Linked DNA regions of Homo sapiens: region 2 is linked to region 1. Evidence: fine-mapped QTL for protein levels in blood plasma. A gene starts in region 1. The other region holds a variant in brackets. All regions are shown on one strand. Distances are between the middles of the regions.

Region 1 (16,181 bases):
ATAACCTTATACCTTTGTTCTTATTATTTAAAAACTGAGTAGAATTAGAAAATAATAAGAAGACTGATAATACTGGTAATAAGGTTACAATTCTCACCCCTTATATCTGTGCAATTAAAATAAGGTGGATGTCAAGACCTGCTGGGTGGGGCAAACCTTGAGCTACAATAAAAACCTACTGAACTTTAATCTAGTCAGCTCTATATCAAGAGTGAAGACAAGAACATTGTTAAAATGTTTTATGAAATCCTGGGGCTATCTTTCATCTTTAAGGGTTTAGAGAAGAACTATAATTTGGGATTTTAAAATATTTATTGGTTCTCTGGGAATGGAAAGTCTCCAATAATCTTGAAGGGTCAAGCATTGTAATTTAACTTATTTAACCTTCAGAAACAAAGTGGAGACTACCAATAAAGCATACTCCTTCCTAATGAATAGAGCTACACACGTCACTAAATTTTACAATATGCCATCCTTCAAAATTATCATAAGCCATTTCGTTGAAATTTATAGTAAGTTTACCTATCTGATGCCAGTGAGTTTGGTCGCTTATAGGTACATATTACTAGTGATTTAAGATATTCAGATTTTTTTCACTTGCATTTTATTCATATTTCAGCTGCTGATTTACTTCAGACACACCTCAATGCCTGTGCTAATTTGCATGTTTTTTCAAGAGTTCAACACAAACTTAGGAAACACATTCCTAGATAGACCTCTAATAAGTGACCTGCACAGTCATGTAGTATAGTATAAACAAGTAACAACAGTTATCTTACTCTATATTTTTCAGTACTTACTGACAAAAGAAAAGATCTTCATAGGCCTAAATGCATTCTGGATGAAATTATTAGCTACTTTCTCTGTTCAAAATCACCTTTTCATTTGCTTGAAGGAAAAAATTCAGATTATTTGAGCAGACAACTAAGACCAAATGAATCTAAAGCTCTCTCACTTCTAATTATTTCGAATTAGATAACAGTATTCAGGTATAGATCCTACATGGAAATAGCCTCCAAATGTAAAGAGAAGATAATCCATGGAGGGCGTCATTCTTTAAAAACCTCTTTGATAAGAGAGGGGGCACATCTTTTGTACACATTGTAAGAAGATTTAAACATGGAGATGCCCTCCCTCCCTCAGACCATGGGGCCAAAACCAAAGGGGGTTTGGAATTTCCCAACTCCACCGCCAAAGATAATCTTGTATTGGGACAAAAGTCGAGGATGACTCAGAATGTAATTAGGGTTGTGCATCTAAGCAAATGACACAATATAGCTTGCGGTATTAAAAAAAAAAAAAGAAGAAAAGAAAAGAACACAAGGCCCAGGAAAAGGCTGCTAATGTATCCACACAGAGACAAGGCTGTGGCAGAATGAAAACAAAACCTCCTTAATTAGCAAATTATAGCACAGGGGCTGATAAAACTCTGTGTTTTGTAGCTGAGCTACCCACTTATCGCTCCTCCCCTCTCATCATCTGCACAAGTGAGAGCACTTCTAATGTTTATACTTAAAACAAATGACAGGGGGGAAAGGTTTCTAATAAGAGGCTGAGCTGAAGCCCCATTTCTAAGAAAATAGAATGGCTCTAGTGTTTTGTCAGCATTCTTGCTAATGCCACAACCAACAGGATGAAACAGGCACATAGCACAGAAGATCCTGTAGCCCAGACTTGTTTATCCACAGGCTGCTGGTCTGTATTGTTATTCAGGTGCTTTTTTTTTCTTTTCTGATATGTATCTGCTTTAGGAATATTTCCCTGTTCTTGTGATGATGGGCAGGAGAAAGAAAAGACATGAAATTCCCTTGTTTGTGTGCCTCTAAAATGTCACCTCACAGCATGTCCAGACACCCAGCCAAGAAATGGCTTAGTCAGGCTCTCTGCCAACTGGCATGAACCTGAAGATTACTGGGCCTCCTGGAGGGCGATCTTTTTCCCACACAACAAACCTTACAATCTACCTTGCAATGGTCCCAATACTAATACTAATTCCTCTTGCAATATAGGGCAGGGGTCAGCTAACTTTTTCTCAAAAGGGCTGGATATTAAGTATTTTAGGCTCTGTTGCAACTCCTCAATTCTGCTTTTGTAGTATGAAAGCAGCCATAGACAACACATAAATGAATTAGTGTGGCTCTGTTCCAATAAAACTTTATTTACAAATGCACGGACAACATATAAAGGAAGGAAAGTGGTTGTTCTTCAATAAAGCTTTATTTACAAACAGAGGTGGCAGGAAGGATTTGGCCCAAGGGCCATCGCTTGTTGACCCTTGATAGAGAGGATGGAAACTCAGAATATTAATAAAATTTCTGCCATTATGTAGTTAAAAAGGTAATATGTAAAATATAGTTGCATCAAATTTCACCCATCAATTTGATTATAGTCCAAATCTGCTCATGGACTTCATTTATTTCCCTATTTATTAAAAAATAATAAATAGAGCCAACTATGCTGTAAGCATTGTGCTAGAAAAGTCAATCTGCTACCAGAAATGATTAAAAAAAAAAGAAGAAGAAATAAAAACTAGTGAACAAGACAGGTGCATCATGTACCTCATAGAGCATAGTGTCTATGAAAATAGAGAGTCGCTCATTCTGCAAATATTTATTAAGGTTCTACCATGTGTCATCCACTCTTCTAGGTAGAAGGTATACTGCATCAACGAGATAGACAAGGATGCTGCTCTAATGGAGTTTGCATTCTTAGTAGGCGGAGATAGAATAAATAATCTGACAGACAATAAGTAACACAGCATTATGCAGTAGCAAGTACCATGAAGAAATAAAACAGTATAATAAGGTAGAAAGTCTCTTAGTAAAGTGGGGAAGGTGGTAGGTAATGGTGCTCAGAGACTTTCTGAGAAGACTGCTGAGTGAAGACCTGAATGAAGAGAAGTAGCCAACCATGCAAAGATCAGGGGGAAGAATTTTCTGAGCTGAGTAAACAGCTTGTAAAGTCCCTGAGGCAGGAATGAGCCTGTCTGTTGGAGAAATAACAAGAAGGCCAATGTCACTTGAGTGTCTGGAATGTCGTTTGAAGGTAGTAAATGATGGGGCCAGTGAGAGGTGTGGGGCAGATCATATAAGACCTCCTGGTAAGAATTCAGATTTTATTCCTATGTAATGAGAAGTTGTAGGAGGATTTTAAGGGGGGAAATGACATTCTTATTCATTTAAATTACATTAAGCCAATACCTTTATATGAGAGGAGTGCTATTAAAAGAAAGCTCAATGTGAAATGGTACAGTCAGGGGTAAGGAAGAACTGTAATTGCCCATAGAAACTCATAGAAAAGGACCTACTTGTCATAGCCCTAAAACCTGAGCTCTCTCAATGGAGACAGTTTACCAAAAGGCTGTTATAACACTAACTGCCTAACTTCTGGGTCTGAAAGGGTTTTTTTTGGATCTTTTGATTCTAAAATGTAACAAGCAACCAATAATACCGAACTATTTGTTGAAAAGTTAATACAGATTCTGAAGGGCTCTTACTTGGCTTGAAAATCAGAGGTCTATTCTTCAAATGAAGTTGATGGGGACATTTCTACAACTCGATTTAAAAGATCATTATTTCTATTAATCTTTCTCAGCAACTGTTACTTTTCCCAATCTCTAGGCATAAATTGTGCATGTATCTTATTTTCACGTTTAGTGACAAATTATTAAAATCATACTTACTAAATATCTACTTTATTTTTTTTGAGATGGAGTCCCGCTCTGTCATTCAGGCTGGAGTGCAGTGGTGCGATATCAGCTCACTGCAACCTCCGCCTCCTGGGTTCAAGCCATTCTCCTTCCTCAGCCTCCCTAGTAGCTGGGATTACAGGCACACACCACCAGGCCCAGCTAAGTTTTTGTATTTTTAGTAGAGACAGGGTTTCGCCATGTTGGCCAGGCTGGTCTCGAACTCTTCACCTCAGGTGATCTGCCCGCCTTGGCGTCCCAAAGTGCTGGGATTACAGGTGTGAGCCACCACGCCCGGCCAATATGTACCCATTTCACACATTTAGGAAGTTCCCACAAATGTGAAAATAAAACATAAGAGCATTCTCTCTGACTGTTGCACAGCCACCACCGGCCACCAAAACAATAATATACCAGTGAGAATTAAGTTCTCATGTGCACATATTATACAGATGTATATTAATATAATTAAGTTCTCATGTGCACATATTATACAGATGCATATTATTATAATTAAGTTCTCATGTGCATATAGTATACAGATATATACATATTATACAGATGTATGCAGTAAATGGCTCCCTACTGTACTGAACAAGAAATACTAAGTTCTTGTGCTTATAGAAGTACAAAACATTATTGTACAAAGGAATATCTAGCTGACCCTCAAGTAGCCTAGTGCTAACATTTAAGCAGACTTTAGCATCTTAAAGTAGTTACAAGGTCCCTTAATTTTCACTATTTTATAGTTACCACTATACACTTGAGCACTTGATTTCTTAAAAACTGATTATTACAATAACAAAAAATTAATCCAGACCCTTAATGAACATGTTCAGAGGTATAAAAATGGATAAGCGACATTTACTACACTTGAGGAACTCACAGTCTAGGTGGGAAAACAAGCCTAGAAACAAACAATTAAAACAACCACCACAACAACTTTGAACTACAGCATTAACATGATACAGTCAATGTACTGTGATGACATTTGAGAACTCAGCCTGGGAGGGTAAGTGGAGTGTGGGTAGATTTCCTGGAGAAACTGGCAACAGAGCTGACCCTTAAAGAATAATTAAGAAGATGAATTGGAGTGACTAGAGAAGTTTTTGAGATTCTAGATTACTGGTTAAATATAATTTGAATAATTAATAACCACCTACTCTGGACCCAATATTGTTTTAACTAGTATTAGGACAAAAATAACCATAGGTTATAGTCCTTGCCTATAGGACAACTTACAATCTATTGAAGAGGTAAGGTGTATACCTCGAATAAAATGCTGACAGTAGACAGTAAAGTGCAGAATGCAATAGATAATGCATTCATTTTTTCATTTAACACATATTTATTGCATATCTGTTATAAATATGTTATATACTCTTCTGGGAACTGAGGTTATGACATTGGACAAACACACATGGTCACTGGCCTCATGGAGGTCACATTCTAATGGATATTAATAGGGATTAATATATATGTAATATATGGGTTTAAAAAAATCGTCATCATCAATGTGTTTTGGGTAATAGCATTTCAAATCTTAACTCTGAAGAAAAGAATACAATATGCAAATAGGGGACATCCTTAACCAAAAAATGTTGTCAATAGAAAAACAGCTAAATAGTCCAGTAAAATCTTTGTATTTCTTAAAATATTCTGGATGGCAATTCATAACTATATTTTCCATTAATAGTCATCAATTTTAGCTAGTGTAAAATATGTATAGCAAATAGACTATTGTTTTCTGTTACAAGGCATTATTGACTCAATTTATTTAAACTTTTAACAAAAAAAGACATCATTTGGCAAAAGCAAAACAGATCTTCTAAGGATTCCCCAAATCTTAGAACATTATACATATTTAAATCTAAATATTTTAAATGTACATCTTTGTGAACTTTTTGAGATGTGGGAGACAGAAAACAATAGTTCACAAAGTACAGGATGTGGGCTAAATGTTTCACTGTCATAGAGAGGTAGGGAGAGATCATAAGAAAGTGACAAAGACACAGAGGCCAGCTGTATTTATCATTACTTATCTAAGAGCTGGTCACTCTCAGGTATTTACTATGACTTGCTAATAATTCCAAAAAGAGCTGTATTACAGAAGAGATCAAACCAGAAACACACCCAGGTGTTTCACAAAATAAAACTATGATGTTAGGCATATTATTCACACCACCCTTCCTGGTCTGAGATGTCACAATAATGCTATCAACCTACCTCATTTTAATCGACAAGTGATTATGGAAAGTTGATTTCTTTGAATTAAATCCATCACATCAAGAAAGCAGTGCCATAACAGTTCCAGTATTTATGGTGACCCACAAATCATTTGCCCCCTTGCATGCCTTGCTTCTCATCCTGTTCAGTTGCAAGACCAGAAAAGTTGAGGAAGGAGGTTTCCCTTCATGGAAGGTGATGGATTAACATAATTATCATATAGCTTCATTTAGAGTTGATAACACATCTATTCTGCCTCAAAACCTTTCCTGATAGCGATGCCATGAGCTGCATAATAATCACTATGCTTTGATTAATTATTTTGCCAAATAAATGGATAAATTAATTTCACCTACATACACTGATAGCCTCAGTTTCTGCAGGGTGTTGCTTCTTCCTATGGCAACTACTTGGAATCAAAATAGAAGTAATACAAATTGCAGTACTGAGCATACCAAATGGTTACAGTAAAAAGATTTCCATTTCAATTATCAGAATAAAAATATCACATGAAGTTTAGAACTTGGAGTGAAGAAAACTCCTAATTAAGGGAAACTTATGAAAGCCTTTAGCAAGTTCTTTGCTGAATGCATTTTTTGGTTTCTTGATCCTCCAACCAATCACATTGACAATGACAAAAGATATGCAAATTTAAACTGACAATAGTCAAGCCACATTGCTCTGACTCATACCAATAGGGACGTTTTCAGCATATATTCAGCTTGATTTTTACACTTGAAAGGGTGAATGTAACCAAAGAACATTTTAATAGTTATTCTTGGCTATAATCTGAAAGCTATCCCATAATCATTGACCAAGAACAATGCAAACAAGAATCAAATTTATTTTGCAAAATAAATTAACATATGAAACACGTGCATGATTTAAGCCCAGCAGAATTATGTGTTTACCCTGTCACTGCTGAATAATTGCATAGCAACAAGAAATATGCATTACTATGTTTGAATCACTATTGTGATTATACGCTTTAAGCAAACAAAACATTACGTTTTTGGTAGAATAGATCATTCAGGATAACTTGGGACTAAATTTTCCTTCCCGTTCCCTCAAAGAATCCAGACTAATATGTAATGATTGAATTCTCACTAAAAACTATACGGATGGTGTACTGAAGAATAATAACAAGCTGTTCAACCAAAATCATTTGTTTACAATGGAAATAAATTTTACCAAAGAAAAATACAAACATCCTATTATAAACTACTACTGAAAGTAATGCATAAAATTTCAGCTACAATTGTAAAAAACCTGAGAGTTCTGTTTGCTTTTTATTCTTCTGCCTACCTACTGATTGCCTATTACAGTCCTATAGTCTGTAATAGAAAGATTACAATATCAGCTTTGGAAACTGTAGAACTACTAAGTTCCAGTTAATGTGTCAAATAAAATAACAGTGATCTTAGTTCAGTCCCTAGTGGACAAAAGTAGAATAACTATTACTTGGCATGATTCAGCAGGCAATGACCTAAGTGAGTGTGACCACACAGGAACAAAATAGAGCATTTGTCCTTTCCCTATCTTTTATCTTTTTAAAGGGATTGCCCGGTTAACAGACTAACTTAAAGAAGCCTGATTGCATACCTATCTACATGTACCAAGTGAATCCATTAACAAGGGAGAGAAGCTTTTCACAAATTGAGACATTGCCTCCCTTCTAGTAGCATAGTCAGTTGAATATACTTATTCTCGGCTGCCTATTATTAAACAGAGTGCAAAGACAGAATGAATTGCAGAAGTGTGTTCATAATTTAATAGGCTTATCTTCAACAAAAACTTAAATGGTTTGTAGATAAATAACTGGATAAACTATTCGATTTGATTTCTATAAATTGAGATTACATTCATACTCAACATTAACATTCATCAAATAACATGGATACTTAAACTCGCCAGGTACTGTCTCTAACTACAATGCCCTGAGAAGGGAGGTATTTCAGGAATATAGTAGACTACATGCTGCGTTCAGCCCATATCTGCAGGTGCATGTCTTCCTCAACAGCCAGCATGCCCTCATCGTGAGCGAGCAACCCCTTTCCGACAGTTAACATTACAATGTATCTTTTTAATTTTTTTTCTCAAGGACAGAAGAAAAAAATATTTAACAGAAATCAGTCTACTATTCTACCACTTGCTGAAACTAACAGTTCCCTTTACATAAATATACAATTTCTCCAACCAAATATCATATTTTATATTTACTCTCACTTCATGTTAATTTTTATAAAGGTTAAAAAAACAAATACTTTGTGATGATTTGCCACCCCAGCGGCACAAAATTTTCTGGTGCAAAATCGATTTGATCTTATTAATTAATATTGTCATTATTATTTATTTTTCACCAACTTGCTTAAGAGGTACATACTTTCTTTCTTAAGGTAGTGTTTTGACAGAGAGAACCTTAATGCTGAACTTTAGAAAAGAGAAACCAAAAATGTCATAAAATTTGCCAGGGCTAGACACACAAACGGGGTGCCCCCACACATTCATAGGTTTGGGCAAGCCCCCAAACCTTGGCTTACCCAGGAAGCCAAACCCAGACAGCCGTCTTGCAATTGCAAACACTGCCCCCCTGGAGCAAAAGGTAAATACACAAATGCTCCCCTAAGGAACTTTAAGTTAGCTGCAGTGCAAGAAAGGAAAAAGGTCCGTGCTATTAGAAACTGAAAGCAATCACTTACTTTTTGCAGCCACTGAGTATAATTTTCCATCACATGTTCCAGATGTTGAAGTTTCTGGGAAGAGAAATCCGGTTCCACGTGTGGAGCATCTCTCTGCAGAGCGTTTGTGTTGTACTGGTCTGTCGTACTCTCACGACAGTTGCCATCGTGTTCTGGAAGAATGAAAGTGTAGGCACATTGCCCATGTTGAATCCGGTTATATCTTCTCCCACTGTTTTCTGGACTTCGGCGCTGATTGCTGCACCCTATGTGAGTCAGAATGGCAGCGAGGAAAGCAAAGGAAAGGAAAACTGTCATTGTACTGCCAGCACACTCCTTCCGTGCCTCTCGCAAAACTTGCTCCTTTCTTCTGACCTCTAAAACTAGTTCTTTATTTCAGGTAAAACTGCTTGTTTGTTTGACTCTTTCCCCCTCAAAGAAAGCGTTTGAAGAAGAATCATAGAAAACTAGCCATTTGTTAGCTTTGTTCTAAAATTTTAAAATTTTTTATTTCACTGCAATGATGTTTTTCTTCGTTAAAACTTGAGATATTTATTGCATAGTAGCTGAGATTTATTGTTTCCTCTCTGTGTGACCGTTCAGCATGGAGCCTGCCTGAGTCAGCTGCGTGTACATATTCTAGACCCTTTCCTCTACCCTATCTGCTGCAGATCTGCTATTTTCTCCCAGACCTCAGTGAGTTTTATTAAGGTTGCACATCCAAGCCAAGCTGGAAGCAGGCAGCCTTTCACAAGATGACTTGACAGGAATGCATGAGTGTGCCCCTATACTAAGGATTGCTGATGGCTTAGGGCGGCGGGATCGTCTTACAAATTGGCTAGATGCGCATGACCTCGATCATGTATGGCCCTCCCGCCCCTTTCCACAGACAATTGCCTTGAGCCTTTAGCAGATTCATGGCAAATCAATAAATAGAGCAGTCCACCTTAATACACTTTTGGTGTGCATGCTGACCTACTAAAATATAGCAAACTAGCAGTATGTTTTTAAAGTTACTATTTAGTCGAGGGACCCTAAGAAGAAAATTGGCATAATGTCCAATGGAATTATTTTTGATAGAGAATGATAAACCCATATCATTATTAAATGTCTTTAAAAAACATGTATTCTTGACTCTGAGGAAAAATATGTTAAAAAACAGTTTTTACAGATGGTATTCTTTCATTGTATTCACTTAGACTTTTAGGAGTTGAAGAAAATAATCAGAGAGGATCAAATTAGCAAGAAAATTAGCATCATTTGTTGCTCAAAGCAATATGTTGCACAAAGCAATATAGTATGTGCATATTAAAGAGGGTTATCTAAGTACCTTTTGGTATAGGGTTCTTAAATGAAACTGGTGTCCTGATCAGAATGCAACCCTTCATGTTCTGTGTATATAAATTGAGCAACTTCCCTACAAAAACAATGTGGCTACAATTTAAAGCAGTGGCTTGAGAATTATTAATTCCTGTGGTATATCCTAATCCTGTATTTTACAAGGATCTCTTTGGTGGCTATGGCTGTCTTTAACACTGGTGTGGAAGTTCCACATAAAAACCTCCTGTGGCTGCACAGACATACTATGTGAGAACAAGCATATATCAGGTGTGCTAACAGCCAGCAATGGGCTGTACAGGAGACATCTCTGTGCTTCTGTGAAGGAAGAAAGAAAAATTATCAGAAGATGATTTCCCACAGGCAGCGTATAAACATTTGAACAAAGGGACCCATAAACATAAACAGGCAATAATTGTAGAATTTAGGGAACGGCTTTGAGATCTTTACTAGATGCAGAAAACCTGAATTATGAGTTGGGATTTTCATTAGGAACTGGGAGGGCTTTTAGACAACTGCAGTCATGGTGTGAAAACAGAAGCCACAGCTGTCATCTCCCATGTCTTGGAAGGAGAACAGGGCAGTGGGTGAAGGTCCGTAGTGGTTAGAGATGGGCATTTAGGGAGAAGTTAGAGGAGAGGTCAAAACAAATTCCAGAACAAATGCGATTTACTTGGGGAAAGAAACCTTGCCGAGATTCATCAGTCCTTTCCACACCAAATAACAAATTTCTGATTGGACAGATATGGAAGCAAGTTATGCCAAACACAGCAATAAAATATTTGAACCACTTTTGCAGCCTCTTGAACTTTTGCGTGTCTCCTCATTGAGTCATGTATCACTCCTGTGCAACAATAATAATGGCATGCATTAAGACCTTACTGTTTTCCAGGCGAAGCACTCCTTACACACTATCTCACTTAATCATTCCAACAAACCTAAGATCACGGATATCATCCGTTTAACCCCATTTTATCAATGGGAAGACTGAGTCACAGAAAGGCTAACAGGATGTAATTCACAGAGCTGGCAAGTGATGGCGCCAGTATGTGAACTCAGGCAAACTGACTCAGAGCCTGTTTCAAACCACCAGGCCAGCCTGCTTTTGGAAATCTCTGCAAGGAATGAAAGCAATTTCAAAAGCGCTCCAGCTGCATTGATTTACAGTCCTAAACCAGGAGAAGTGACGTACCTAGAAGAAAAAGCACTGTTAAAACCAGAGTATCTCTCCAAAGTGATTCAGGCCTTTTCCAGCACACGCGTGCGCGCGCACACGCACACACGCACACACGCACACACACAGTGACAGGTAACCTATGCACAGCCACAAAGATGAAGTGCACTGGCAAAATGCAGGTTGTCTAAGAACACTTTCCAATAATGCTTGATTTGAAAATTATCCATGGAAAGAAGAGAGTCCAAACCCGACACCTAGAAGTGTTTTGCGAAGAACTAAATACAGCAGAAAATTGGCAGAAGACTAATGGATGAGTGGTGAGGTTTCTATTAAAGTGCTCCTGTGTTTTTAAATAGCCGAGACTGTTAAAAATCTGTTCCTCCACGTGTGTGTCTGTGTACGTCTCTGTGTCCTTATCCATGTGAATTTTCGCAATTAGAATAAATGAAAAGCAGGAATGCACAATTTCCTGAGGGAAAAGTAGACACTAAGAAAGAGAAGCCTGAAATGCAAATAAAAAAGGAGGGGTCGAGGGACAAAGAGACAGAGAAAAATGTAGAGACTGATTTATTTCTTTTGCAGAAAAACAAAATCAACCTTAAACCATAACACTGGAAGTACTAGTGTCATTCTGAAAAAAAATGTCTGAAGATGAATTTTAAGTAATTAGAAAACACAAGGATGTGCAGAATTGACTCCGGTGTTTTTGGAACTCCAGTTAAGGAGACTGTAGGTACATTTAAGGATCCTGACACACTAAAGATAATATGTCTTTGGGATCATGCATCTAAGCAACAGCAACACTGTTGTGTGTTGCTGATTATTCAGAAATGGGGCAGAATTCAGGATGCATTAAAATTTAGGGAGTAGGGCTGGGTTCAGTGGCTCATGCCTGTAATCCCAGCACTTTGGGAGGCCGAAGTGGGAGGATCGTTGGAGACTAGGATTTTGAGTACAGCCTGGGCAGCATAGGGTGACCCTCCCTGTCTCTACCCAAGATAAAATAAAATAAAAATTAGCCAGGTGTGGTGGCACGCCCAGGACCTGTGGTCCCAGCTACTCAGGAAGCTGAGGTGAGAGAATCGCTTGAGTCCAGGGGGTTGAGGCTGCAGTGAGCCATGATTGCCACTGCACTCCAGCCTGGATGACAGAGTGAGACCCTTTCTAAATAATAATAATAATAATAAGCGAGTAATAAGAACAAGCCAATTAAAATTCATCTACCACACCTCCATGAAGGATAAAATATTTATAAAGAACTAAACAATTCTGTTCAATTGAATTCTGTGGTAGCTTGAACCCAAAAGCTTTGTGTTTTATTAGAGATCTGGAATAAGGAAGTGTAGGCTTTAAGGTTTTGATCTCATATTTACAAAGAGTCCTAGTAAATGTCCCACTTAGTCTGAAATTTCCAAAGGGACCAAGAGCCATTTATACCAGAACTTAATGTGCCTAAATCTATCCTAAGAAACAGTCTTTGATAATTCTTTGGTAAAGCTTTCTTAATTTCTCCAGGTCCAATAAATGCTCTCTGTGTTAAATTTCAATAACCTTCTCCTCATGTCTCCAAAACTGCACTGCTCACGTTGCTTGCTAATTGTTGCCTTTTTTTTTATCTGTCTCTTGCTTTTGCTGTGAGCTGCTAAAGTGATCTTCTCTTTGTCATCATTGATTCCTCAACATTCACTATGCACTTTGTCTGAAGGAATGAAAGAATAAGCAAATAAATGAATGAGCTGATTAATGACTCAGTTGATGCAACTTCCTGACTCTCTATCTGGTTACTACATGACTGGCCACATTCATTGCATTTGTTGGGTGAGTTTGCCTAGAATCCCTAGGCATGAAGAACTGAGGATAAAGCCAAACTTATTCTAAAGAATGAGTTAGACGCAAGAGCAAAGTACAATAATAATTCATAGTATTTTTTAACACTTAACAAATAATTTTCTCATCTAATGTTTACAGAACCCCCATAATTATGTAATATTATATATTATTATTCCCATTTTGCTGATGAGAAATGTGGAGCCATAGAGATTAATCGCCCAGGATCTATGATCTCTTAGGAGGCAGAACAGGAATTTGATCCTCAATCCATCTAACTGTGAGGCTCACATTCATTTCCCACTGAGCTATATTGTTTATGACAATACTTCAGTATTGAGAAAATATTTCTTATAATTTAGGGAACAAGAACAACATGGTGACTTCCCCCTTCAGAGGTCCCTTTCCTCTGAAACCCAGGGCTTTCACAGATTCATGTTATGATCTTCCAAAACAGGGATAATATTAAATCAGGATGCACCAGTATGGTAAGATATGCTTACCAACAGCCAATCTGATTAATCGGATTATACTTTAGAAATATTCTAAATGGTTGGTCCTATGCCATGTCATCTGTTAGATATCTTGATCATCACTCCTGCTCTACAATAAAATCAAAATATATGAAAAAAAATAGTATTTATTTCTCAAAAATACCACCAGGCAATGAGATTCAAGGAAATAGTCCTCTGGTATTTATACAACCACTTATAGGGGAAAAAGGGGTGGGAAAGTATTCTCCTACTTTGTGTTCTGAACACAATGTGATTCACCACACCAAGGGTGCCATATTCTGTGACTCTGCTCAGGCACTTTTAGGGATCAAGACTATCATCAGGCCTATAGAAGTGGCAGCTCTATCTAAAAGGAGGGAGGGCACTTGGCTGTAGCTCCTGGAAGCAGAGCCAAGACACCTTCACTCAACTATGTAGGCAGCAAAGGTATCCACAACAGTTGGAAATATCACAGGGGACAAAACCAAAAACAGAAGAAGATGGAGGATATCATCTGGTAACTGAAGGCACTTCATGAGTACATGCAAAATATCCATTTAGAACTCCCAGAATAACTGGGAGGATGCTACAAAAAGCTGGAAACACTGCAGCAAGTGGGATGAGGACTGGAGGCATATAGATAAGTGAGGAAAATAAAAATTATCATATAAATATTCCTCTGTCTTTTGATGACAGAAATTTCTGGTAATTGTTAGGTATCTTGTTTGTTAAGTAGGTTTAATTTAATTTTATTTTTGAGACAGGGTCTCGCTTTGTCACCCAGGCTGGAGTGCGGTGGCATGATCTCAGCTCACTGTAGCCTCTGCCTCTGAGGCTCAAGTGATCCTTCCACCTCAGCCTCCCTAGTAGCTGGGACTACAGGCATGCACCATCGTACCCGGCTAATTTTTGTATTATTTTGTAGAGATGGAGTTTCACCATGTTCCCCAGGCTGGTCTCGAATTCCTGGACTCAAGCAAACCACCAGCCTCGGCCTCCCCAACTGCTGGGATTACAGGCGTAAGCCACCAGGCTCAGCCTGTTAAGTTGGTTTTAAACTATAGATATACAAGGTGGAAACCGCTGAGACTGAATTAATTTGCTCTACCTAAGAAAGGAGAGAAGGGATTAAGAGACTCAGGAAAAGATCTAGAAGTGGAGGACTGGAGCTAGAGAGGTTTAGAGATTCTGTGTCAGGCAGAGCTGCTGAAAGAGAGAGGAGGCTTGTGGCTGTGTGGCCATGAGAGACTTGGGAAGATATATCAAGTAAGGAGATTTGGAGTGAAATAATGTTTCCAGTGAGATCAAATTTGTCTTATCTGTTTCAGTAAAATATATACTTTGGGGCAAATGACTTCTTAAAGGTGAATAAGAGGAATTGAAGAATTGGTCTTTGCTTCAAGCATGGGAACAGCTAACATATGGATTACACAGACTATTAATGTGAATGCAATTGAAGTCATTTGTTTCAGGTTTGTTTTTCACACTAGATCAGAGTCCCAAATGCTAGAACTGTGTCTGTCTTATTGATCTGTCTGTCCCCTTTTCCTGGCACAGAGGATGAACTTTATAAATATCCAGCTGACTGTCTGATTCATTCACCTTAAATCTCAATGATGAGATGTGAAGACACAGAGCCAGTCCCTTACAAGTTTTCAGGTGCTAGACTTGCATAGGCCCTAGAGATCTCACTTTGTGGTGAGTCATAGAAGGCACCCAGAGTCCATAGATTCCAAAAGTCAATCCCAGCAGTGGTAGTGGAATAATACCTAATACTTCCAGCCACCTATGAACATTGCCACGGTTGAAAAACCATTCAAGAAACATCTCAGAAATACCTCTCAATGTGAGATTAGTTGTTAATTCTACAATGAAGGTAACTTCTACAAATACGCAAGCCAGAAAAGAAAACAAACAGCTGAGGACTGTACCATGCAGAAATACAGATGCCAACATTCCCCTCATACGAGAATGAAGAAGGATTTCCATTGGAGACCCAGTGAGATTTTATTATAAAAAGCATATAAACTACTTTGCATTTACTAACTGCCTCCTTCTTTCTTCTCTTTTTCCCTACAGAAGTCTTGATTCCTAGATGAGAGCAGAATGCAAAGGCCTCTCTGTCTCAACTTTTCCAACTTCAGAAAGCACATGTATTTTACATGTTCTAAGAAACTCTCAAAAAAGAACAAGTAATTTCAAGAAATGCCTGGAATTACCATTTCATGGGTTATGGTAACCCAGTGGGACTTGGATAGTTCTTGTAACCAGTTCTTGTAGCCAAAGTACCCTCCGCTGAGAGTAACTCAATGATGTAGGACTTTCTGTTCAGAGGAAAAACTATGTTGTGGTCACAGAGTTGTTACAACCTCCACTCATGAGTTAAAAAAAGAATCATTCACAAGCATTGTAAACTCAGATTTTAAAAAATACGAGGGAAATAAGATCCTTAATGTTTTCTAAAATTGCTTGTTTTTCCTCTTTTAGTCTTATTTTTATACTCTCTCTTAATCTAATCTTACTTCTGATGTAATACTGTCTTATCTCTCTTTCCTCCTGCCAGATTGGATGAACTGTTTCATAGTGGTTAAGGTGGGAGGATACAGACTGCTTTGTTTTTGTTTTGTTTCTTAATTTCTTGTCTATGCTAGTCCATGTTAGATGATATTAGACAAGACATTTAATTTTCCTAAGCTCAGCTTCCTTATCTGTAAAATGAAGACAGTAATAACAGTACCAATTTTATAAGAACG
Region 2 (16,181 bases), 1.9 Mb before region 1:
TTCTATTCTATTTTCCTCAGCTTTCTATTCTATATGGATTTTCAGTGACATTAAAATTGACGCAAAAGTAATTGTGGTTTTTGCCATAGTTTTGCACCAACCTAATATTTCTTTCTGTTTCATTCCTTCATATTCTCATGTCTGCTGTTGATCAGGCTGAAAATAAATAACATTAAAACACAATGAAGTTAGGTTACTGAGATAAAATTTTTAAAATATAAACATTTTAGTATGGTGATATGGCATGGTAATACTCTTTGGGGAATAAATATCCTAGATATAATTATTTTAAAGACAGGCTGCAAGTCCTGATTGTGATTTTTTTTCTACCTATCCCAAACAACATTTAAGCTATTGGCCGTTTTTTTTTTTTTTGAAATTTTGAGGCCCTCTTTTATTTATTTGTATATTATTCCATTCATTTATTTCTTAAGCAAGCATTTAATGAATTCTTACTTTATGCAAGTGTGTATACTGTCTTTACTTCCTATTTCCCTTTATAGGTTCCAAAATATTACTCTGGAGTAAATGAAAGGAAGAAGACCTTCCAAAGCTGGTTATTTCTAAAGTATTTTTTTGGTACAATAGAGTTCTATTCAGTATACCAAATACAGAAAAACAAGTAAAAACTCCGTCTAAACATTTTTTATTTGAAAAACATGCCTTGCTATATATTGTACATGTAGCCATTTTACCTATTGAAACTGGTAGTCAATTTCAGAAAATTACCAAGTACTTCAAAAACTCTCCAGATATTGTTGTTTGACAGTCTTGAATAAATACAAGAATTTTAGCACAAAATGATTGTCCTACTGTTTCTTGTCTACCTGTTTTGGCATTGGATCAGTGCTTTTTAAGGGAGTGTTACTGTTTCTGGTTCTTAAAGACTTAACTAAAAAGAATTGGCTTCAGTAGATGATGCATGTGAAAAGGTGAAAGGAAGAAATTGGACTAAATTTGAATACAATTTATAAGGACAAGTTTTATTTTCCTCTCAGGTTAAGATGAGTTGTTTTTCAGACAAGCATAATTAATTCTCTTTATATGAATCCTGAGAATATCATGTGTGTAAAGCAAACACACAAAAAGAGGTGGCTGCTGATAAAGTACAAGTAAGTATTCTAAACACTTCTGTTCCTTTGTCTGCAGGAGAGCTGGAGGTGTTTCAGAAAGATGGGGAACGAAAAATTCAGAGTCGACAGCAACTTCCAGTGGGAACAACCTGGGGGCCGTTTCCTGGGAAGATGGACTTGAATAATAATTCTTTGGTATGTGGATATTCCGAGATGGTTAATATTTTGTCATCGACTGTTAGTATTTTGCCATAGCTCAGAAATTCTCTCTGCTTGCTTTCCAATGAAATCACTAAAAATAACCATTTGTTTTTGCTTTTTCGTGGACAGCAAAACTTGGATACTTTTCAAGTGGTTTGTGTCTGACAGTAATATACGCAGAATTTAGACAGAAACAGGTTACTCATACTAAATTGTGGCTAGTAAGGTAATATGTAAGGTTATTGCTTTATCTGCTTAGCCAGACCAAGACTGTTCACATTTAGTAATATATAAAATTGCCTTTATTTTTCAGATGACACAAATTGTCATCCATTACAGGTTTTCATGAAGAACAAGAAATAAACAACTTTGTTTTTCCTTGGTAATACTGTTTGTACCTTTAAAAGCAGGGATGAGTGGTCAGCATTATAATTTTTGTTATTCAGCTTTTTTGTAAAAGTTCTGAGAACAGAAAGTCTATCTCTTGCCATGATTATGTGGATTATTGATTAATTAGATGTTTTAAAAGTAATGGAGGCTGGGCACAGTGGCTCACTCTTGTAATCCCAGCACTTTGGGAGGCTGAGGCAGGTGGATCACTTGAGGTCAGGAGTTCGAGACCAGCTTGGCCAAACATGGCGAAACCCATCTTTACTAAAAATACAAAAAAAAATTAGCCAGACATGGTGGCGGGTGCCTGTAGTCCCAGCTACTCGGGAGGCTGAGGCAGGAGAATTGCTTGAACCCAGAAGGCAGAGTCTGCAGTGATCCAAGATCGTGCCATTGCATTCCAGCCTGGGTGACAGAGCAAGACTCCATCTCAAAATAATAAATAAATAAATAAATAAATAAATAAATAAATAAATAAATGGAAAGGTAGGTAGTTTGGTTACATTTAAACTTTATTTCTTAATTGGATATATAAGTTTGCTATTCCTGCCTCAGCAACTCACCACAAACTTTGTGCCTTAAAACAACATAAACTTATTATCTTGCAGTTATGGAAGTCAGAAATCCAAATTGGGTGTCACTGGGCTAAAATCAAGGTGTCTGCAGGTCTGAACTCCTTTTCGGATGCTTTATAGGAGAATCTGTTTTCTTCCTTTTCCAGTTTCTGAGGGCTGCCCGTGGCCCTTCCCTCATAGACCCCCTTCCATCTTCAAAGCCACCAGGGCCTGATGGTGTCTTTCGCACGTCCACATTCCATCTCTGACTCTTCTGCTTCCCTCTTACACATTTAAGGATGCTTATGATTACACTGTGTCTGCCTGGGTCGTCTAAGCTAATTTCTCTATTTTAAGGTCAGCTGATTAACACTCTCAATTCCATTTGCTTCCTTCATTTCTCTTTGCCATGCAAAGGAATGTTCGCAAGTTCTAGAGGTCAGGATGTAAACATCTTTGCAAGGAGCTATTCTGCCTACCACATGGGATAAAAGAAAAACAATAGCTGAAAACCTCTCTTATAATAAGTGATAACACAGGTGATGAAATTTGGGAAGAAAAATGTTTCATATTCCTTAGAGGATCCAGAAATTTTATAAGTATTTATTCCCCTGAAAGTCCTTCTCTCTAAATGCCATTTATGTAGGAACAGTCTTGTGACTTTTAAATGACCCTATCTATGCTAAAGGGACATAAGAACTCCCAGAGGGGTTTCGACAGGTGTACTGGGTTCAGCAACATTACATTCCTTTTTTGATTTATTACATGAAGGAAATCCCTTCTTCAAGTTATTACATGAAAGAAATTGATACATGTGGATCTCCGTTTATTCAGTACCATGTGGATGTGACAGAGGTTGTTGGTTCAACTAAAAGTAATGATTAGAATAAATAGGAAATATTTGTGTTACCAAACTTTTAAAGAGTGCATGAGATCCCAGGGGTATATTTATTACTTTGTACATTCATGTATTTATCCATAAAAGGATGAAGTAGGGGTTTTCACATACATTTAAGGACCAAACAAGTTGACCTTACAGTCCAGACCAAATATTTAATATTCTGGGCAATTTGTTCTAGGTGGACCAGTGCAGCTACTTCAAAAGAGATTTGTGATGTAGCCACAAAATGCAGGCCTCAGTTGATTGAGTTGTATTAACAGATTGTTTTATTGATTCCTTTCAGAGAGCAATATTAACTGTGCCCATTTCTCAAGCTAATGAATGTTAAGAAAGGCAAGAGAAGGATTGTCTAAACATCAAAGATTGAATTAAATGCTATTCTGAACTTATTTTATCTGGGAGTTTCTGTTTGTCTTCTAGCATTGCTTACTAAACATTTTAAACTATATCATATTTATCTTATTTATCACAGTGTATCAGATACCAATGCAACCTTTAATCATTTGTATATTTCTTCAAAAGTGTACTGACACTGTATCAGCTATAGTTGACATGCAAGATGAACATTTTCCAGTTTACTATATTAAAAGGATATATTTACTAAAATGCTATTTTTGATTAATCTTGCTATTACTCTCTGTATGTATACAGAATGGTAGTTTTATGACATTTTTACCATATGCTAAATCGTGATGGATAGAAGATAAACCTGTCTGAGAAAGTTTGATTTTTTTATTTTTCATTGAAATAATTTCTGATTTTAGACAGTTGATGTCATTTTGCTATTTTAATAGTTCTATATGACTGTAAAGCTATTTTATGCCATATTTAATATTTTTAAAAGGCGTTAACTTATATGAAATTTTCAGAATTTTTGATACTATTTAAAACATGACTACTCTTAAGTTTATCAACAATTGGGTAATGGGTGATTATTATTTATAGAAAACAATTTTAATACTTCAGTTTTCTTCTTTTGTCTTAGGCTTTAAATATCAGATTATTTTATTTAGTTAAAATACAGCATTTTTCCTTATTTTAAAATTTAGTTGCCTCACTAAAATATATTTTCAAATGTTTTTCTTTTGAAATAACATCCTCTTCCAAAATTTACTTCTGAGTTTATATCATTAAATACTACTAGTATTATTATTCCTACTACTGTTACTACTGTACATCAAATTGGTTAACATATATGTCTGAAAAATGGAAATAGATTAGCTCATTTAGTCCTCCAAAAAACCTGTGAATTTGGTTCTATCATAAATCATATTTTACAGATAAGAAAATAAAAATTCTCACTTCTGATTCGAGAGTCTGCTTTTTTAAAGACTCTGCCACACTGCATTCTCAGTATAACATCTGTAACATGATTTGAGCATGATAAAATTGTTGATGATTTCTTAACATGAATCATAAATTTATAAAAATCTCTGGGAGGAAGTATGCAAAAATTAGAAATATACCTTTTTTTCCCCGATGGGCAAAATATTTATTATGTAATTAGACTACTTGAGCAGTTAAAAGTTAATTCAAAGACTTCTGGAGTTTTGTTACCTCTCATAATTTGGACAGTACTATAATATGTATTTGAAATCATAAATATTCCTTATAATAAAATATATAGCCTACTACCCCTTCCCTACCCAACCTTGAATCAAATTTGGATTAGCGCACTCTCTTAAATTGCTTATTCGCCAACTGATGTAATGTTACTCTGCTCAAACTCATGGTGTTGGCTCGGGAGATTCAGCTCACTAATTAATCCAACACAGTAATTAATTGAGTCACCATGCCAGATGTCAAATCCTTTTTATATCTTTCAAGTCCCCATCTTCAAGTACATTAGCAATATGCCACCTTCTGCAGGAAGCCTTTGCAGACCAGGCATTTAGATGTATATAGAACATTTTAAAAAACACAGAAACACCAAACAAATTAGTTTGACAAAAAGTTGTTCTTGGAATTATATAACACACTGAACATAGAAATAGAGTATCTTTTGTCCACACCTTATTATCTTGGTAGATACTTCATGCTTTAAAAGTTTTATAATAGCAGCAGCAGCATAGTAAATACTTTCATTGGGCCAGATACTGGTCAAAGTGCTTTACATGTTTTATATCATATTTACTTCTTACACAAGTGCAAGAGAAGATAATATTTATCTCCTTTGTTGCAGAGGCGTAAACTGCTACTTTGGGAAGTTAAATAACTAGCCTAAGGTCAACTCAGTCTGATTCCATAACACATGCTCCAGTCTTAGAAATGTTTTCTGTGATGTGGTAATAATAATACTGCCTAGCTTATAGGAATTTTGGACTAAATGAGATAGCATATGTGAGTTATCCACACATTTCAACTACTTTTACTAGTCAGTAATCTGTGGAAGTGAACCCATTGAAATCTTTCAACTTTAAAGCAAAAAGCACTCTTTAAATTAAACAAGTAACACTATAAACCTTGGCGTTAGGGGATTTTTACATGCCTAAATTTGACTGTTTGCCAAGGGCTCTGTCTTAGGATTCTCCAGAGAAACAGAACAACAGGATGTGTACGTATATAGCCAGAGATTTGTTATAAGGAATTGGCTTGTCCAGTTATGACGGCTGGGAAGTACAAAATCTGCAGTACTCAGTCAGATGAGATACCCGGGAGAGCCAGTGGTGCAGATGAAGTTCGATAGCGGTCTTTGGGATATTTCCTCGTCTGCAGGGAGGCCAGTCTTTTTGGTCTATTCGGGCTTTCAGTTGATTGGGTGAGGCCCATTCATATTTTGGAGGGCAGTCTGTTTTACCCAGAGTTCACTGATTTAAATGTTAATTTCATTCAGAAACGCCCTGTGAGTTGGCAATTAAAATGAACCATCACAGGCTCCGAAGGTCTGCACTACCTTGCAAGTTTCAGTTTTTTGAGGTATGACCTTATACCCCTGAAAAAATTGATACCAGTGAGGGAGCCCAGCTTTCTTTCCAGCATCTCACCTCATATCTCAGAAATAACTTATATTAAATACTATCATGGTAGCACAAACTTGGTGTTTTTGAAAGTTTTGCAGTTTTATTCACTGAAAAAAAATCAAAGGACTACTGATGAGGAAGAAATTTTAAAAATCACCTTAAGTTCTGATCAATATCTGGTTTGGATGTGTTTTAGAACATCTATGTTTATATGTTGTACCTTTGAAGATTTTCCCCATATTCTCCCAAGGACAAAGATCCTTGCAATAAACTAAATCTCAGCTGTGCTAGCACGTGGTAGTGCTTAGCAAGTATCAAGCAACAGTGATTACTTGGAAGGTTGGGTGTCTGAAATTTAAATGGCGTTTGCCCTCTCTTGCTTTTAAATATTATCAACTGTTGATAGCTAACTATTCTGATTGGATTCAGCCAACTGCTGGAATCATACAACATACATAGTTAATTAAATAGAAAGCCCCAGATTACTTACAACATAATAGTAAACTCATCGCAACCTGTTAAATTCAACAAATGAAATTTGACAGAGAAATCTCATTTTATTCTGTTCAATCAGAATAAAATGTATTATTTTCCCACAGGGTATTTGTGATACTGAATTTTTTTTAAAAAAATGAAATATACATATAAAGGGCACTATAGATATTTTGTTGACCTAATAATGAAATAATGCATGTATCAAATTGCATCTTAAAAGTTTTAAGATAGTCATCTTTATAGAAATGTGGTTAAGGAAAAAATTAGAAGTTCCTGATCTACCTGCTTATAATTAGAATTATTAATTGCCTCCATTTATCCCTTTGCAGTTTTATCTTTTCCAGTATTCATCTTTTATCTTAATAATTGCTAGTCTTCAAGCTTCATATTGTACATATCCTGTAGCAAATATATCTCTACCTATGTCTCCAGCATTCACCTCTATAGGCAAAGGCTGCTCAGTGGGCACACCTGTGACTTTTCTACCTGAGCACTTTTTTCCAGCGTTAAGAGCAAACTCCTTGCAAGCTGGGAAAGCTGGAAGTGCTGGAGATTTCCTATTCCCAAAGGTTATCCTCAACCAATGATGGACAGAAAGTTGGTGGACTAACACCTCCGCTTCCCTTCCTCTTGGTTAGGATATAAGATGTGTTCTATATTGTCTGTTAGAGTTTGGCAGTGGAATTGAGCTCTGATTGCCTTGATAGTGAACATTTTGTGGACCTCTTCCCTTTCCTGCTTACTTCGCCACAACCTTACTGGAATTTTCTGGGATCAACTTCCCAGTAAACTACTTGTATTTGAATCAGTCTCAGGGTAAGCCTCTGGGGAATCCATACTAAGACAGCCTCTAAGATGTAATAATGAAATAAATTTAAAAGCAATATCCAAATTATTATTGAGATTCTAGAGGACATAGAATTATTTAATCTTTATTATTCAATTTTGGACCTCTACTACTGGTACATAATCGGTATTCAATAACTGCTCTTTAAAATAAAAATCTAATCGAATTGAATTTGCTTATCAGGAACATTCTCACTGACTCCACCCATATTCTCCATCTTTCCCATCTCAATGGCATAATTTATAATTTTGCTGAGGCATGACTTTTTGTTGAGCCTCAGATTTCATTGATGTTGACATTGTGAATGATATCTTCCTTCTTAATATTCATTTTAATCTGGGCTCAGGACTACCATACTTTCCTATTTCTCATATCTCTCTGGGTCTTAGCTCTTTTTAATTTAACTGTGAGTGTTTCCCAAAACACTTCTGGCCTTTCTTCTCTTCTCCCTCTGTTCCCAGTGCCTCAGGGAGCTTATCCACTTGCAAAGCTTCAGCTACTAATTTACAAATGACATTTAAATAAAAAAATCTCTAACCTTGGCTTTTTACCCTTTCTCTAATAGCACATTTCAACTGTTTTGCAAGCTTTCCCATTTAATTCCTCCAACTACACAGTCACAAAGAGAGTTTATTCCTGTCTCCACAGACAGCCTCTCTTTTCCATGACTTCCAGCTTTCAGTCACCTTTAATCCTAGTCCTCTGCCTCTCCTTTCGTACCTCTGCAGGGAGTCCATTCTCTCAATTATCCTGTGTCTTTTCTGCATTTCTACCTCTCCTTCTCACATCTCAAATGCTATTCACACACAGTTACACATACCCATACCTCTCTCCTTTTGCCTGTAACTACTACCATCTCTTTTTCCTTCTATTCAGAGTCAAACATCTTCCAAGACTCTCCATTTCATGTCCAGAAACCAAGCATCATAACTCCTGCTTTCGTAATGATTGTTCTCCTCTTTCTGTCCTGCTACCACTGCTTTAGTCGAAAGCCCCACCGCTTCTCTCTTGATTATTACAATATTCTTCTGTTCTCTCTTGTCATCTTTTTATTTACTCAGACCACAGTATGTCCTGAAAGCAAAACTACAGTAGTCACTTAACTCCTGTGCTTTAAAATCATTCTAAAGGGCACGAGAATACCCCAAGGTTTTGGTAAAGCCTAAAAAAGGCCTTCCTGTTACTCACCTCCCCAGGTGATGCTCACCTCCCCAGTTCTGACCCCTTTTCCACTCTCTTATAGACTTTAGGCATTCTGAACTACATGCAGTGCCCTGAATGTCCATTTTTTTTCCACATCCGTACATTTGGTCATGCTGTTTTATCCTCCTGGAAACCCCTATTCCCCCCTCCCCACCTATCTCTCTTCATCTCACTAAGTCCAATACTTATTTAAAGACTCTGCTCAAAGTCACTTCCAAGGTAGACCTTCTCTGAAGCCTCCTGTCTGGAATAGATAACCACTCTTGGAGTATTTCCCTGGTGCTCTAGGTTTACTAGGATAAGAGCACTGATCACATAACTGTGAGCTCCTGTTTGCTTGTCTATCTCCCCTGCAGACCATATGCTTATTATCTATTTTTTATCTTTCTATCCTTCCCACTTAGAACAATGTCTAGCTTATACTAAGAGCTCAATGAATAACATTGAATGAATCAGCACATT[A/T]ATTTTTTCCTTTCACTTTTCTCCATATCAGGAACAGCTGCACACCCCTCCTTATTCAAGACCCTGCATCCTTCCTGAGGCTTTACATCCATGTCTGTTTCGTCTGTGATCTTGCTTCATCTGCCTAACTCAGCAGAGCAATTACCACAGGAAATGCTATCTTGTACCTGTTTTATTTGTTTATAGACTTGCACTTTTATTTTAGTCTCGTTTGAGAGGAAACTTCAGTAGGACAAGATAACTATGTCTATTTCTTCAGTTTTTATCTCATAAGGAGATATGCCCATGATGGTTTCTTGAGAAAAGTTGACTAATTTCGGTGTAAGATTTGCAACCCTTGGATGCAGCTAGGAGGATGAGGTGTTGCGCCTAGTGAGGCAATTATGATTTGTTTACAACAGACTCAGTTTTAGATCCCTCACTATGACATGGGTGAAGGCCAAGAAGGTGTTCTGCTCTACCATGCTTTCTGTGAAGTCTCATCCAGCCTCACACGTTCCAGTGACAAACCATCTGGGAAATTCCATCTGTCTCTGCTTGGAAACTGAGGTGGCAGTCGCCCACTGTGAGCAATTTTCTATTAACTTCTTGGATAAGATCAGTCAGATTTATACTGAATTGATGGGAACCGTAAGAGCAAGATTGTTCCAAGAGAAGACAAATGTACTGATTCCTCTAATTGGGCTTAAGCCAGTTTCATTCACAGACGCCCTTAGGTTCTAGTAGTGCAAGGACTTATAACCTTTTTAATTGTACCCTGTTCCTCTTGGGAAACATTGGTGAAATTCATTATTGATGGAGGTTGTAGATTTGTCCCTTAGGGAGGGCAAGATCCTGGCTTCTCTTATACTCTATCTGCTATGTGGAGAATTAATGGAAACTGAGTGGACAGAAAAGCTGCTCAAAGAAGACTTGAAGGCAAGAAATGTAATGCAGCAGAGCCTTGGAAAGTGATGCGTTGGTTTGGTTTCTAGAATTAGGGTAGGGTTTTTGTTGTTTTATTGATTTTTATTTTTATTTATTTTTTTTTTGATGGAGGGGGATTACTCAGGGAAAGAGGAGAAAGAAGTTTGTGTGGAGGCCTCAGTAATCAAAGGCCTGCTATTGAATGTGAGTCAGAAAGGAAGAAATTAAACACCGAAGAATTATTTCACAATTGAAATATGTAGAAGCCAGAGAGGTCAATTGCATATTAATCTGAAGGGATTTGCTGTGTTATAATGCAGATATAGTTATGATGTTGGCAGTGGATGAAAATACATTGTCATATGGCACAATGGTATTGAAATGAAAACCTGAATTTGTGCCCTTCCTGATAATTTTTACTTGCCTCCAAAATAATACCTTTTGTGTATAGCTAGCCTGTTAACCTCAATCTCATCCTGACTTACTTTTTCTCCTGATGGTGAAGTCTTTCCAGGTTCTTTACATTTGGACTTGGATTTGAAAGGTGGAAACACAATTCCTTGCTATACATAGACAATTTTATTTATGGACCTAACTTACTCTCCTCTGCCTGAAATTTTAATACATTTTGGCCTTTGGTTTATATGGCTAAACCTATTTACCCTTAGTTAGGCCAAGTTTGAACTTTTAAAAAGAATTATTTTTACAAGATTATTCATTGTTCCCTTTTCCCAGAACTCCAAGGAGAACTTTTGTTGAAGATGATCTTTTCAGTTATTAGGACGATTAGTGCTATTAATTTAATTAATTTCTGAAAGGAGGAATTGTTTATGTCATCATAAGATGATCAAAGCTGATCCACTCTATGTGTGTAAAGTTGAGACAAATGAGTCACATAACCTTTTCCCACAGAGGATCGGTGTGAAGGATGAAGAATCACTATTGATTTATAGCTCCAGATACTGTTTGTGGGAGTTGTGATTGTTCCCACACATAGGGATCCTTACATGAATTTTCTTAATGCAGATTTCATTGCTACTGTCATTTCTTCGTATTTGCCAAAAACAGAATCATGAAGGCCTAAGGTGGAAGTGGGTGGATATATAGCATCCCTGCCTCTCTAGGGAAATCTATCACCATCTTGACTAGTGAGGAAGTGGTTTGTAAAGCATAACTATTGTTTTTGTAACACAAATTCTAAAATATCAATCTTGAAATGTAGTTTTCCCTGGAGGGGAAGGTAGAAGTAACAAAGCACTGTGAGGAAGAGTTGTTCATGGAGTTGACCAAACTGTCCTCTGTTATGTGCTGATAGGTCTGGCATGCCTTTTAAATTCTTTCTATTTGATGTTTTTGAGGAATTGTCATTCTATACTGATTTCAAAACAATTAGTTTGGCAGGATATGCTTACATGGTTGTAACAAATATTGTGCCAGCATTATGAGGACTTAGCATCAATCTCAGCTTGACATGACAATTAATACATTCAGTAACTTGGAGATGATAACAGAGAGAATGGAGATAGGTACCAGTTTGTACTCCTTCAGTTTGGTCTTAAAAATCAAAATTACTTAGGGATAATGCTTTGTCAAACTCTGATAACATATTGGACTCTGGTTTTAATCTAATTTTCAATAAATATTCCCAGGATGGGATTCACCAAGTTTCATAATTTAACTGTAGCTCTCAGGTGGCATTGACAACCTTTATTATCATATAAGGTTTTCCTAGCATTGGCAAGTTTGTGACTCTTTCCAAGCCACTGCTATAAAGCTCTGTGTTGATGCTGTGTGGTGGTCCAGGGGCAAGTATTCTTGGGTAAATTTCTTTTTTTTTTTTTTTTTTTTTTGAGACGGAGTCTGGCTCTGTCGCCCAGGCTGGAGTGCAATGGTGCGATCTCATCTCACTGCAAGCTCCACCTCCCGGGTTCATGCCATTCTCCTGCCTCAGCTTCCTGAGTAGCTGGGACCACAGGTGCACGCCACCACACCTGGCTAATTTTTTGTATTTTTAGTAGAGATGGGGTTTCACCGTGTTAGCCAGGATGGTCTCGATCTCCTGACCTTGTGATCGCCTGCCTTGGCCTCCCAAAGTGCTGGGATTACAGGCGTGAGCCACCACACCTAGCCTCTTGCATAAATTTCTAATAAGAGAATAATAAAGTAATATTTATTACATACTTTGGAAATTTGAGAAATTATTTGAGAAACTCTCTTGGAGATTAACATATTTTTGCCTGTTAATTTAAATATTGAATTTAAAGTTGTTCTTTTTTTTTGAGACAGAGTTTTGCTGTTGTTCCCCAGGCTGGAGTGCAGTGGCGTGATCTCAGTTCACCACAACCTCCGCCTCCCAGGTTCAAGCAACTCTCCTGCCTCAGCCTCTCGAGTAGCTGGGATTACAGGCATGTATCACTATGCCTGGCTAATTTTATATTTTTAGTAGAGACAGGATTTCTCCATGTTGGTCAGGCTGGTCTCGAAGAACTCCCGACCTCAGGTGATCTGCGTGCCTTGGCCTCCCAAAATGCTGGGATTACAGGCATGAGCCACCGTGCCCAGCCTAAAGTTGTTCTTTATTATTCATTGACTCTTACTTCAATTTTCTCATAAAACCCCTTGTCCCAGCTTGACAAAACTGTGGCTTCTTGATTCTAATAATTTCAGCGTCTTCTGTGCCATTTTGTATCACTTTCTATTTTTTAATGGCAGGAAACCAGACTAAAGCATAGAGTTATGTAGGTTGGTCTGTGGTTTTCTTCTCATACACTTTAGTTCCTTTTCTGATGGTTAAAAATAATGAGCACAACTTGTCGCAGGCATAATGTCTCCCACAAGGCTTCAATCAAGGGGACAGACAGGTCTTGGTGTCATCTGAAGGCTCAGCTAGTGGAGGATCTGCTTACATGCTCACTCAAATGACTCTTGATTCAGTGCTTGGCCTAGTGGGCCTCTACTTAAGGCCACTCACAATATGGCAGCTGGCATCCCTCTGAGCAAGCAGATGAGAGCATAGGACAGGGAGCCCAAGACAAAAGCCACAGTGCTTTGGTAACTTAATCATGGGAGTGGCATCCTATCACTTTTGCTGAATTCTAGGGAAGGGAATTGTGCAGAGCTTGAAACCAGAAGGCTGGGATGACTGGGGGCCAACTCAGAGGCTGTCTGCCACAGAAGGTAATTTGCATAAGTAGTTAACCTGACCTGTGGATAGGGAAGGACTTTCAAATACCAAGAGCCATGGGAGCAATCACAAAAGAAAATTCAGTGAACTTGAATACAGACAACAAAACTGTATGCTATACAGCATCATAACCAAAATCAAAGATTAATAAGTAAAAGACATTTGTGAAAATGAGGTATATTTTATTATTATTCATTAAAATATTTATGGTTTCTCACATCTGTGATCAGTGGCTTCCTGATTAATTTATTTAGATATTAATTTTGCAATAAAGACAAATTAAAATATACAAAACGTGATTTGTACAAAAATTTGGTGGGAATTGGGGATCAAAAGTAGTTTGCTGAGTGTTTCTTCTCCTTTGGTAATTTTGAGAAATATACACCCACACACTGTAAAGATCAAAAGTGGGAGAGAAAGTATGGGAAAGAGCCCGTGATGGGGTCAGAACAGCCTGATTCTAGTCCTGTTATTACTCAAAGTGGATGTGCTATCTTGGGTAATCATACATGCTCTTAGTTTCCTCTTTTATAAAATAGGGGTTATTATACCAGCCCTACAACATAGAATTGTAAAGTTATATAAAATTATACGCATTTAGTCACTTTGAAAAACATACAGATTGTTAAACAAACCTGGATTCCTTTTATTATGCCTGTGAATAGAAAGTAAATGATTCATTCCTTTAATTCCCCAAGCAGTGCATCTAGTCTTTTCTCTTCTGTTCTCTCCCTAAACATACTTTAAAAAGCAGGTTTTGTTGTCATACGAATATAGCTTCATATACGTGTACTCACACGTATCCATACACACACATGCTTACTGATTAGCTGGCATGAATATTCTGAGAACTCATAGCCTAGATAAGTAAACGGTATGGACTTAGTGCATTTATCATCTAAGCAGACAGTCACCATAGAGGAAAAACACATATTTTTAGGAAGAGAAAGAAAGGTTAAGTGGTCAAACTGCCTTTTGAATGATCTTGGCTTCTTTGAGTTTTCTTTTTGTAGGGAGTTATTCTTCAGAAAGCATTTCTCAGGTGTGTGATTGGGGATTTCAGACAATTGGAAAAGTAATTTACCCTGTCTGATTCACTTTTGAGTTAGGTTTGTATTTTAAAATGTTAACTCAATTCTTTCATTATTTATGGCATTTTAGAGCTCCATACAGAATGGAGTGAATAAGGCAGTCATAATGCAGACAGTGATGTACTGTGAAATATGAAGAAATGGGGACAGAGTTTTGGAAGAGCAGAGGCACGTCACGTGCCTTAAGTTTTAGCTTTTATTAAGAAGTCAAACAAATACCATTTGTACCTCATTACCCTATGTGTAATAGTGTAAGCATTACCCCGCAGACAGGAGCAGTAAGAGTCCCTCAGGTTCTGATCCTAATCTCGGATGCGGCATTACCACCTCTCCTCTGAAAGCCACTGCTGCCCAGGCACACGCAGCATATTAGTGCATTTAAAGGTACCCAATTATATCCATGTGTGCATCTGAGATAGGCATCAGGACCCAAGTACATGTTAAATTCAGCTCCTATAGGAAAAAAAAAAATAGCACTTGCCTTTATTAAAGAAGTACAGAAGTGGTGGAAAGAAAATTTGTCCTTTATCTGAATATTTTCAGCAAGAAACCTAGGCAGTGTTATTCTTGGTGCATTTCTTCAAAACTTTGTGAAAATGACAACTCTTCAAAGGAGGCAGACATGTGCACAAGTGTCCCCCCGCCTCTGCTGATATTCCGGGAGGAGAAGGGGTGAGGGAGGAAGAGTGCGTGATGAAAGTCAAACAGTGGTCGGCTCCATTACTTCATTAATCAAGTGGAGGCATTCTGAAAAATGTTTCTCTTTGGTTGCAGCCATCTATTTTTTGGTGTTAATCTGCGCCCTGTGGCAGGGTTTTGTGAAAGGAAACAATGAGCCGTTGTATCACCCCCCTCCCTTTCCCCAATTGTTGTAGCCCCTGTCAGAAGGCTCCGAGGATGATGCAGGTCTGTATCAGCCTGATAAGGGAAAAGAGGATTCAAAATGGCTTTGGAGAGACTCCGTGGGAGTGGAGTGTGCTGTTTTGGACTAGATGAGCTAGGGAATATGGCAGAGGCCCTTAATGGGATCCTAAGGCTTCAGTGCCAAACCTTCTGCTGCTTCTTGAAGATTTTCTAATGAAATATTTTAATGGTAAAATTCTGTGACTGTCATAGGGGCATAGGTTCAAGATGCTGTTTTAAGTCATTTGCTCCATAATCTGTGATTAGTCAATCCAGGTCAAAAAGACAGAAAAAGAAAAAAAATATCCAAACTCAAGAAACCTGTCAGAGTATGTATTAGGTCACTTTTATTCTGTTGACAATGAGTGTTCAATTCACTGTCATCATGAGCTCTGTACAAGTGGCCTGTACATTTTATATACTGTGGGTTCCTATTTTATGGCTAGATGAAATATGAAGCTATCTTTCATAATGCTGATTCCATTTTGGCAGGCCTTTGGATCCACATATGGTTCAGTTAAGCTGTTTTGGAGCCTAATGTACCTTTGTTATTTATTGAGATTTTTGAAAGGGGAATAAGTGGGCTATTTTTACTCTGCATTTAAAAAATACACATTAAATGTTTCAAACATAATTCATACAGCTAAGAAAATTCTAGTGAGCTTTAGAAACGGATCTGCTATTCCTAGGACAGCTAAAATAAAATCATTCCTACCCATGAAGGAAAAAATAAAAAGACAGCTAAAGCTCCAGCAAAATAGAACCACTATCTTACAGCACACGGTAATAATATATACGCAGAGCAATTAGTAAACATGGTCAAGAAAAGTGGGCATCAAGTCAATACACTGTAAAGTTTAAGTATCTTTAAGCTTATAGATGATGCTGAGATTTTTTTTTTAACTATTCCTCCTACTATTGGCCTGGTGTCTTATGAATAAACATAGAGGCACAAAAAATTAAAAACAGTGGTTGTCAGATGAGTGAATGATAGGGAAATACCTCACATAC

Alleles and levels. Alleles are on the strand shown, and positions count from the first base shown. The strength of an association depends on the size of the effect and on how common the allele is.
For the plasma level of the protein whose gene starts at base 9,270 in region 1, A is the high allele of the variant in region 2 and T is the other (moderate association).

What was found. PIP is the chance, under the fine-mapping model, that this variant and not a neighbour inherited with it causes the effect. Protein levels are from antibody-based Olink assays in UK Biobank. Linkage for the fine-mapping came from a reference panel and not from the study's own genotypes, which makes the PIPs less certain.
Region 2: its variant is fine-mapped to the plasma level of the ANGPT1 protein (UK Biobank, PIP above 0.99).

Annotation. Positions count from the first base shown.
Region 1 is chr8:107,488,649-107,504,829 of GRCh38, forward strand. It overlaps ANGPT1 (angiopoietin 1), which reads right to left and starts at 9,270. Exons shown (of 9, transcript NM_001146.5): 1 at 8,614-9,270. The coding sequence starts at 8,910. RefSeq lists a silencer at 12,769-12,969.
Region 2 is chr8:105,560,214-105,576,394 of GRCh38, forward strand. It overlaps ZFPM2 (zinc finger protein, FOG family member 2), which reads left to right. Exons shown (of 8, transcript NM_012082.4): 4 at 1,150-1,268. Among named protein-coding and RNA genes, the nearest start is that of ZFPM2, 250 kb to the left of the region's middle. The variant A/T (reference allele first, on the strand shown) is at 9,087.